2 separate regions of the Homo sapiens genome follow, and region 2 is linked to region 1. The links come from fine-mapping of genetic effects on gene expression. A gene starts in region 1. The other region holds a variant in brackets. All regions are shown on one strand. Distances are from middle to middle.

Region 1 (5,372 bases):
GGCGCCTGTAGTCCCAGCTACTCGGGAGGCTGAGGCAGGAGAATGGTGTGAACCCGGGAGGCGGAGCTTGCAGTGAACTGAGATCGAGCCACTGCACTCCAGCCTGGGCGACAGAGTGAGATTCCTTCTCAAAAATATAATAATAACAATAATGATAACAAAGGGCGGGAAACTGTAAAGGTAAATAAAAATAAGATGGCATTCGTTTTGTTTCCAAAAGGAAAAGAGACCCCTTCTCCCCCTCCCCTTTCTATTTCCTTGAGAAAGCCTGTATTTGTAAATCCTTCCTCTGTTCCTTCAGATACTTATGCAAGTCTTTTTAAAGTTTAAATAAATCTTTTACCAGAATTAAAACCCAAAACTGTTTTTCTGAAAAGGCTGGGAGCCCCCTCTCGTAAGTGTAACATCAAGGACGACATGTTGCTGTCACCAACGGTGTGTCAAGGCGTGCCTAGGTGCCTTGCACAACCTGCTTTTTTTGTTGAGACGGAGTCTCACACTGTCGCCTGTGCTGGAGCACAGTGGTGTGATCTCGGCTCACTGCAACCTCCGCCTCCCGGGTTCAAGTGATTCTCCTGCCTCAGCTTCCCAAGTAGCTGGGATTACAGGTGCCCACCACCACACCTGGCTAATTTTTTGTATTTTTAGTAGGGACAGGGTTTCACTATGTTGGCCAGGCTGGTCTTGAACTCCTGACCTCGTGATCTGCCCACCTCGGCCTCCCAAAGTGCTGGGATTACAGATGTGAGCCACTGCGCCCGGCCAACAACTGCATTTCCTAGAGATTCAAGTTGCTTTATTTTCCCTACAGAAAAAGGCACTAATTAGCACAGATGACCACCCCAATCACCAGGTGAATTAGGTACGCTGTAAGTGCATGTATAGCAAACGACGCTGTGGAGCTCTCTCTCACCTGAGTTCAAGTCCTCACACATGACAGCATGTGTGTAACGGGTTGTAGCTGCTTGACTACATAAATAGGGGGATTTCTGACTGTCTTTATGATTGCGTTAGCTGATAATGCATCCATGTGTTTAATGCTTATTCAATCACAGAACTAGTATTTTCTTTATTTTCTACATTTGTGGAGAGAATATTCTGGGTTGGCAGGAGATTTTATTTAAAATAGTTTTTTTTCCTCGATAGCACAAGGTCTGTCTTCCAAGTTGCCGTAGGCAACAATTTTAGCAAACGTTCTGCTGTGACATAAAATGCTTTTCCTTACTGCCCAGCCCCCAACTGGTGATACTTTACCTGTCTGATACAGCATCACTCCATTTCAAAGAACCCATTTCTGTGTGTGTTAGAGTAGGGTGGGTGATGGTGTACTAAGTCGACCTAGATGTCGCATCCCCTTCATGCAGTAAAAGTTTATTCCTTGCTCGCGGCGTGGTTTGATGAGAGCCAGTGGAGTTGAGGGCTTATTCCTGATCCAAGCAGTCAAGGGCCTTCAGGTCGCAGGTTCCTCTTGTCTTGCAGTACTGCCATCTGCAACATGAGGGAGGCCTCAGAAACAGGAACCACACGGCAAGTCACCAAACCTCTAACCCAATCTTGGAACCTACCAATCTTGGAACCTGCAGTGGGTCACAGAAGGGAAACCAGCCAGACGTCAGCATGCTGCTGAGACCTCGGTCAATGAGTCACACCTGGGCTCTTGTGAATTACAGAATCAATGTTGGAAGCCCAGGAAGCCAACTAATCAGGTTTGGAACCCAGAAGCCTGGTCGTCTTGGAGTCTGGAGAGGCTTGAAGGCTCCACTGAGCCAGGGATTTGGCACCAGAACTCTTGGGGTCAAGTCCTGGCCTACCTCTGACTAGTTGTTTCCACTGAGACACATTATTTCTCTCAGCTTCAGCGTCCTCCTCTGTGAAAATGTGTGTTCTACATACTGCTTGAGATGATTTCAAGGCTTAAGGGAGATAATGTTTGAGGAAATGTTTTGAAAGCTACAAGGCACAAGACAAACACCACTTAATATTACTCATCTTGTCTCTGCAGAGACATCCCTCACTGGGCCAACTTCTTCCCATCTGTGCAAAGAGTGGGGAGAGGTAGACACTGAACTGTTGTTCCTTCCAGTGCTGCCGGGTGGGATTCTAGCCATGTAACACCCTCCCTCTCTGAGTCTCTGGGCCCCCTCATCCTGAGCCTCCAAAGTCTGGAAGGTTTCATAGCTCATGTGTCCACCAGATGACAGTGGAAGGGCTCAGAAAGATGCTTCCAGAAAGTCCTTCTCCACAAACACTACACAAAGTTAAGACCCTGTTCCCACCCTTGGCTCAGACCCTAAAAGAGAGAGTCACTCTCATTTGTCTTTACCCCACTCAACCCCACCCTGGCTTTGGGATTTCTCTACATTCTGTATTTTGTCCCCAGCCTGTTAACTATAGCTTCACTGCTGAGCCATCTGTTCTAGACCACGTTGCTGCCTCTGCCCACCACACACTTCCCTGGAGCTGGACCTGATCAGCCAGAAGAAGCATCTGAAAAGGAGCATCTCAATTTCAGCACAGTCGACCTTAACAAAATAACTTCAGGAAGTGCACCAGCTTGGGAACCAGGACTTCGGGGTTCCCCTGCTTCTGTCATCAGCAGCTGCACAGGCTTATCTGAGACTTTCTCTCTCTGGGTGTGCACCTATAAAATGCCAGGATTGGATGCAGTGACTACTGCTGTGGTTCTGAGATGGGGAGCTGGGGAGCTGGGGAGCAGGGCTGGGAGGAGAATCAGTTGGGTGAACTCCTGGCTGGCTGAGCCCTGCAGAAGTGGTCCTGGGCTTCTCCTTCCTTCAAGGCTTGACCAAGTTCTCTCTGCTTATGTATCCATTCTGTCCTCTTGCTGGGACAGGTGCTTGTTGACTGCCTGTTGACAGGATCATGGGAAGCAGTTTCTCAGAGAGGAGACAAGAGGAGCGGAACCCCAAGTCCTAGTGGAAGAGCCTGCAAAGGTGCCCATATCCACTTGGCCTTGGCCTGAGGCCTCTTGCAGCCACTGAATGGGGACCTCTGACGTTCACTTCCTTGGATCTCTTGAATTCCAATCTCCCTCTTCCCATCTGTGCATTCCAGCAATGGATCTCATTGGTTCACCTGCTCCCACCATGAAGTCATCTGAGGGTTAAATTCTGTTTCAATAATATACTGGGAAGCTGACATTCACATACACACATTTTATTTTTCATAAAATAAAGGATAATGTGCCCACCCATACCCTGTAAGTTTCATAGCCTAGAAGTCAGTTTCATAGCCTAGAAGTCTTCCTAGTAGTCAGATTTTCTGTCCCCCAGAGGGAGAACTCCCGCACCCCCAGTTCCCAGGGGGCCTGGTGTTTGAGGAGCTGCATCAAGCTGCATCTTCTTACAAGCCCAGGGGAGAAAGGATGTGTTTAAGGGTAGAAGTTGTTCATTTTGTTTTCCTTTGCAAGATTTTGATAGAATCTAGTATAAAGGCTGTCTGGCTTAGCTCAGAATGCAAGAAAAGGTGTTATTCTTTCGCATTTGGGCACTTCACAGAGGGCATGGGCACTCCCCCATCTAAACAGGCTTGAAAAAGGACACAGACCCAAGAGAGGCCCTTGCGGAGGCCCAGCAAAGAGTGGTTCAGGATGCACAGACAGGCTCTCTGGGGCTGTGGGCCAGGAGTGGGAAAGCCACCTTAGTCCTGCTGGAGCAGATTTGGGAAGGGTCATGGGAACAAGTTTCTCTGCTCTGGGGTCTGGGCCACAGTCTACCATGTCCCATCTCTCTGGTTCTGCCCAGTGTTCCTTCCTTCCTGTCATCCCCAGCACCTCATCAGTGCTCCCCGCTCCTGAACACCATGGTCAATCATCCTGGGGCTTCTCACATCTGTGAAAGAACAGGTCTCTCGACCACCTAGGGGTAGACTTCCAGGATGGTGCCTGCTTAACTTTCCTACAATCCAGGGTCATCGGGGAAATGAGCCAGGTGGGGAGGGTGGAGTCTCACTTGCAGCCAGAAACCCTGGGATGTAGCCTATCTGTGACAAGGGCAGATCGGCAACCATCTGCAACCAGAAACAGGCCGGGTGTTCTATCCACTGCCCCCAGATGCTGCCTCCCAGGTTCCAAGAGCCACCTTGAGTCCCAGCTCAGCTGCCACCCAGACACCGAGCATTCGACCAGGGCAGTGCAGTACATGGCGGTGCCTTGGAATCCCTGGCATCACCCTCCCCCGACCTGCCCCTCTTCTTCATCCCCACCTGACATCTCTCCTGTCCTTCAATACCTCCTGGGGCTGTTACTCTTCCTGGAGAAGGGGCTCTCGGTCCCCTTCCAGAAGCCTCTCATCCTCCTCCTTCTCCATGCAGCCCACTGTGGCAGCCAACCCAGCACCCACGCCACCCCCAACCACAGCGGCCCCTGTGGCCCCCACGGCAGCTCCAGCAGCCACCATCCCAGCCTCTGCAGCCAGTGCAGCTGCTGCCATGCCAGCACCCACCACGCCCCCTGCCAGGCCCATGAGCCCGGCCCCCACAGCACCCCCCACAGCAGCTAGGTGGCCACAGAAGCGCATCGTGTAGGAGTCCATGAAGGCCTTGGCCGTGGCCTGCAGCTCAGCTTCCAGTGCCTCCAAGGTCTGATCTCTCCCCTTGCAGAGTAAGGCCACACCATGGCGGGCCAGAATGGCATCTTTCTGGGTGGAGAGGAGGTTCCGCATGGTGTCTGGCAGGACCCGCAGCGCAGAGAATATGCGCTTGGTGGCTACGTCCTGTGACAGGGAGGGGAAAAGAAGGTGCCCTGACCAGGAGTCCCAGGTATCCTCTCCCTGATCTGGACCCTGCCCGGCCCACACCTGCCTCCCGTGCAGCCCCGGGGCTCACCTGCTGCCTCACATACTCCTCGAACTCCCTCTTGGCAGCTTCCACCTTCCTCAGGTCGTGCAGCTGAGCAGCCATCTGTCCACGGGAAAACCCAGGCTGCCTCCTTCCTTCCTTCTCAGCCAGGGGCGCTGCTTGTTTCCTCATCTCCACTCCCAGGGCACACAGACCCCCACCCCGGAGGCCTCGGCACAGCCCCCACCTCCCTGCCTCCCCTGTCTCCCTGCCAGAATGCTGGATCCCCCAGCGCTCATACCTCATCCGGAGAGGTGAAACCGGGCCCTGTCCTCCCCATCCATCCTGAGAGGTTCTGCGGAGATACCATCGCTGGGGTCAGGGAGAGCAGGGGCCCAGCCGAGTCGCCTGGGTCTCCAGGGAGTTTTCACACCTTGATTTCCTGAGCTAGCTGCTGCCCCGTGAGTAGGCGTCTGTCCCCCCTGGCCACGGCGCGCCCCTCGTTCCAGTACCCCTGGCAGCGGCTCTTAGCGTGCTGGGGGGCCGCACTCAGCACATCTGAGACGTAGGCCCCCAGA
Region 2 (5,372 bases), 97 kb after region 1:
CCAGGTGGGGATTTCTTTGATTTATCTTGCTTAGGATTCACCAGGCTTCCTGGATCTGAGAAGGAGCATCTTTCCAAAATTCTGGAAAACCCTGTCAGCTTTCAAATATTAGCTCTTCTGAAACTCCAAACAGATATGTGTTAGGTGTCCTCACTCTGCTCCCGTGTTTACCCCCAGCCACACTGATTCCCAACTGCTTCCCAAATGCCTGGCATCTTCTGGGCCTCTCCGGCCCTCTTATTTTCTCTTCCTGCCTTCTCTGACTCCTCTGGAATCCCCCCCTTGACTTTTAGATCACTTATCATACAGCACCATAACTATTATTTAACTATGAGTCTCTCATGCACTGTAAACTCCCTGGAGTGAGGGCTACCTTCAGCCCTGGCACCAGACATTAGGGTGGCACCCAGCAAGCTTGTGACAGCCTGGCTGAGCTCTGAGGCCTAGAGAAAGGCAGCAGAAGGTGGCAGTGATGTGTCAATCTCAGAAGACCAGGGAATGCTCCCCTGAGCCTCCGAGACAACTAGTCTCTTCCCTCATTCCTACTCTGAATTCTACAAATGCTTCTCTTAAAAGCCCCAGCTCTGCTGCTCAAGGATGGACAGGTGAAGAGGAGACTCCTTGGCTTTCAAAAAGATGAACCAACTGCTAGGCATCCTACATGTAGCTTCATGCCTTCTCGTCTCTGAAATGCTGAATAGCTTTAGTAAGGGCCTATTAAGCCACACCAGCCACTACCTTTTTTTTTTTTTTTTTTTAGAGACAGGTTCTTGCTCTGTCACCTAGGCTGGAGCGCAGTGGTGCAATCACAGCTCACTGCAGTTTCAACCTCCTAGGCTCAAGGGATCCTCCCACTTCTGCCTCCCAAGTAGCTGGGACCACAGGCACACACCCCCATGCTGGCTGATTTTTTTATTTTTTGTAAAGATGGGGTCTCCCTATGTTGCCCAGGCTGGTCTCACAGGTTTCAGTTGTCCCACAAATTCTTACGTAAAAATATATTATTGGCCAGGCGCAAGGAGACACTGCACCTGGCCCACCAGCCACTATCTTGGTGGCCTTTTTCACTTTTGGCCGGGATCAGCTACTGGCTAGCTGTAGCAGCACTAGGAGGGAGAGGAGGAGAGTGCTGCCTTCACTCCTTCCCAAGCTTGCCCCGGCGATGGGGGCCTGGCCAGGCCAAAGCAGATGTCAATCTGCAAGCTTTGTTCCCAACATCCCATGGATACTTGTGCCTTTCGTTTCCTCATGGCCTGTCCACTCCTGTTTGGACTCAGGGCTTCTCCTGCTACTGCCCCAGAACCCACAACCTTCTAGAGGCTCCAGAAATAACTGTTTCCATCCAGAAGCTTCTTCTGACACTTCACTCCTCGTCTTCCAGTGTCTCATGCAGATCGTCCTCCCCCAGGACTGAAGCTGCCCTTGCCAGGTCCACCTCTGCTCGACATGGGGAAGGGGCTATCAGTAAACAAAAATCTGCCCCCTGCTGGAATCACACTGTAGAGACAAGCCCTCACTCTAACCCCCTGCAACAGGACACCTTGTGGGTCCTCAGCTCTCTGTCCCAGCTGGACGTAAGTGGCATGGTGGAAATGACAAATCAGGGAGAGAGCTGACTGCAAGCCGAAGAGCTGTGGTGTGACTTCAGGACTGCGGTGACACAACACAGAGGACACGGGAGACCTGGGGCCAAGTGCCAGGCTGATTCTGGCCCCCTGTGGAGCCTGGGGGAGTCAACATGCCTTCCTCACTGCCCATGCTCAGCAGCCCAGCTGTGCCTGGATAACAGACTGGAGCCTCGCTTTCCCTGCAGCCCTGACCATGCATCATCTCCCCTGCACAATATCTCACTCCCCAGCTACTATCCCTTCCCACTTGCCTCTGTCAGGGGACATGCCCCGGTTACTTCTATCCCCCACTCCTGCTTTCTCCTGCAAGGATGCCCTGGTTCTCCTTGGAAGAATTCTCCCCTCACCCACTTCCAGTCAGTCTCAAAAGGGACAGATCCTGCCCTGGCAACAGAAAAGGGTTCTCACTGGTTAAAGTCAATCTGCAAAGTGTCCCCAACTCCAGTCCCCCATCCCTAAATCCCAGAAATGGTACTGGAGCTACAGAGAAATCCACTCTCTCTATTCCCTGGGCTGTGTTAACTGGGACTATGAGGTGGGCACCAGAGGCAGCCACTGTGCGTGCCAGAGCAAAGGGTTGAGCTTCTGAGGTGAACAACACAGCAAAGGGGGTCTGAGTGTTGGTGGTCACCTCCTAGCCACTGGGTCAAGCTGAGGGCAGCATCACATCTCGAACAAACTGGCTCCCCTGACATACTGTATGTGGGGCACTTGCTGGGAAGGCCCAGCCCCCACTCTGCAGCCTCTATGCCAGCCCGCCATGCAGTTCCCACTCTAAACCCAGCT[C/G]AAAACCCTTCTCAGGGCACTCATGCCGCTTGTGTGCATGTGAGACTGCATCTGTCCCCCTTGCCAAAGCATGTGCTCCATGAGAACATCGGCTGGGTCTGCTTTGCTGCCCATCCCCGAGATCCAAGCCTGACACACAGAGGGTGTGCTCCATCACTAACTAGGGATTGAAGAGAGGTCACAAGGATCAAGGGACCCACAGGACCTCAGGCTGGCAGGGACTTTGCAGTTTATCTGCATCTCTGCACACTGGAGTTCAGTGACCACTTCTAACAGGTTCTGGATAAATGTCCAATTCAGGGGCTCAGAAACACAACCAGATTAGAGTGGCCCATAATCTCCATCCTGATTATCTAAGACATGGAGCTTTCAAGTGTCTTAGACTGAGTGGTATTCATGCACCCTGGGCCAGGGGGCACCAGACTAGTGGTTCTCAACCATGGTTCTTCTTGGGAAGCTCTTAGGGATTTTAGTAAAATACTGATGCTGTCCTCTGCATACACACAGATTCTGGGGTGGGCCTGAGCATTTGGATTTTTAGAAGCTACTGAGATGACTCAAATGGGCAGACAGGATGCATAAGAAACACTGAGCTCTGGGTGCACCCAGACCTCTCACCAAGCCCTCCTCAAAAATGAGGCCCCATGTGAGCACCCAGCTCAGACTTACAAGCCTGAGTGGGCAGATGCGTGGTGGAGACAAGCTCTGGTCTCCCACGGTCACCTTGTTCTATCCAAGCAACATTTGGTCAGCAGTCCCCAGGCCTGGCCCCAGGATGGCCCCTCCCTCTGAGATAGAGAAACAGACAGCCACTACAGCCAGCATGCGGGTCACAGGCAGCCATCAATGGCAAGAGGGCAAGAGGCAGGCCTGAGGACGGGGTGACCACATCCCCTGAGTAGGGATGTCTGAGCCATGATTTCAAAAATACATAAGAGTTTGCCAGGCAGACAATGAGACACAATATAAAGATTAGGCATTTAAGGGAATCCAGGATGCCTGAGCCCCTGCAGAGGCCCTCACCAGAGAGGAGTCTCTGAGCTCTGCTCCGAGCCCCAGGTCCCTCAGGCTTCGCCTTTCTGGCCTCAGCCGCTGCACACCCAGGCTCCCTGCAAAAGTATAATCTGTCGCTGGGCATGGTGTAATCCCAACGCTGCTCACGCCTGTAATCCCAACACTTGGGGAGGCCGAGGCGGGTGGATCAAGGTCAGGAGTTGGAGACCAGCCTGGTCACTATGGTGAAACCCTGTCTCTAATAAAAATACAAAAATTAGCTGGGTGTGGTGGCAGATGCCTGCAGTCCCAGCTACTTGGGAGGCTGAGGCAGGAGAACTGCTTGAACCTGGGAGGCGGAGGTTGCAGTGAGCCCAGATCATACCACTGCATTCCAGCCTGGGCAACAGAGGGAAACCTTCTCTCAAAAAAAAATAAAAATAAAAAATAAAAAAAAAAGGGGCCAGGCGAGGTGGCTCACGCCTGTAATCCTAGCACTTTGGCAGGCCAAGGCAGGTGGATCATGAGGTCAAGAGTTCAAGAACAGCCTGGCCAATATGGTGAAACCCCGTCTCTACTAAAAATACAAAAAAATTAGCTGGGCGTAGTGGCACTCGCCTGTAATCTCAGCTACTTGGGAGGCTGAGGCTGAGTCAGGAGAATTGCTTGAACCTGGAAGGCAGAGGTTGCAGTGAGCCGAGATTGCGCCACTGCACTCCAGCCTGGGTGACAAAACGAGACTCCATCTCAAAAAAAAAATTTAAAAAGTAGAATCTGTCCTTCCATCTAGACGTACTCTCAGACAGTGAGGTTCTAAACACAGTTTAAACTAATAGGTTTATATCTTTAAGAGTTAACACAAGGCATTTTAACATTTCTGGAAATTTTTTTTTTTTGAGACAGGGTCTCACTGTTGCCCAGGCTGGAGTGCAGTGGCATGGTCTTGGCTCACTGCAATCTCTGCCTCCCGGGTTCAAGCGATTCTCATGCCTCAGGTTCCCAAGTAGCTGGGATTACAGGCACACACCACCACACCTGGCTAATTTTTTGTATTTTTAGTAGAGACGGGGTTTCACCATGTTGGCCAGGCTGGTCTCGAACTCTTGGCCTCATGTGATCTGCCAAACTTGGCCTCCTAAAGTGCTGTGATTACAGACGTGAGACACCATGCCCAGCCAACATTTCCGGAAGAATTCTTTCTACCATGAACTCTGCAATATGTGCAGTATCTCCACTGCACGGGTTCTGAAGCACTCTCCATGAGCCAGCAGCACGCTGACCCACCATCCAGGACTCATGGGCCAGGCTTCCACGTGAGAACCCCACACTCCAGTGGAATGCCACCTGAAACTATTCCAGAGACTCTTCTGACACCTCCAGTTAGCTCTTATGGGCCCTGCTTCCCCTTTAGAATCTGCTATTAAAATAACAAACAACAGCACTGCTAAGAATTTTAAAACTCTGCAACTGTATCATGCACAATGTTGAAACTACAAGTTTTGGCTCAGAAAGAACCCCCTACTCTTTTTTTTTTTTTTTTTTGAGATGGAGTCTCGCTCTGTTGCCCACGCTGGAGTGCAGTGGCATGATCTCGGCTCACTGCAACCTCCGCCTCCCGGGTTCAAGCGATTCTCCCTGCCTCAGCCTCCCAAGTAGCTGGGATTACAAGTGCCCACCACTACGCCTGGCTAGTTTTTGTATTTTCAGTAGAGATGGGGTTTCACCATGTTGGCCAAGGATGGTCTCGATCTCTTGACCTCGTGATCCGCCCACCTCAGCCTCCCAAAATGCTGGGATTACAGGCGTCAGCCACCATGTCCAGCCAAGAACCCCCTACTCTTATAGCCCACACAGACAAAGTTGGTCACAGCCCAGACAGCTTTGAACATAGAGTGAAGTCTGTGCTTGAATCAAATCCTGACCACCTCCAAATCACCCAGGTAATCATGGACAAGCTGTTTGGCG

Direction of the effects. Positions count from the first base shown, and alleles are read on the strand shown. Sizes are in standard deviations (SD) of each study's normalised expression.
As copies of G replace C in region 2, the expression in tibial artery of the gene that starts at base 2,087 in region 1 goes down (small effect, 0.36 SD a copy in GTEx).

What was found. PIP is the estimated chance that this variant, and not a neighbour inherited with it, causes the effect. A credible set is the group of variants that fine-mapping cannot tell apart.
Region 2: its variant is the best candidate, but not a certain one, in a credible set for the expression of LINC02094 in tibial artery (GTEx, PIP 0.62).

Annotation. Positions count from the first base shown.
Region 1 is chr17:19,415,063-19,420,434 of GRCh38, reverse strand. It overlaps LINC02094 (long intergenic non-protein coding RNA 2094), which reads right to left and starts at 2,087. Exons shown (of 3, transcript NR_186796.1): 1 at 1,566-2,087; 2 at 1,255-1,488. RNF112 (ring finger protein 112) reads right to left here. Exons shown (of 14, transcript NM_007148.5): 11 at 5,228-5,372; 12 at 5,096-5,149; 13 at 4,843-4,917; 14 at 3,159-4,730. The coding sequence ends at 4,260.
Region 2 is chr17:19,318,127-19,323,498 of GRCh38, reverse strand. The region is part of intron 7 of EPN2 (epsin 2); the gene reads right to left. Among named protein-coding and RNA genes, the nearest start is that of EPN2-AS1, 15 kb to the right of the region's middle. The variant C/G (reference allele first, on the strand shown) is at 2,415.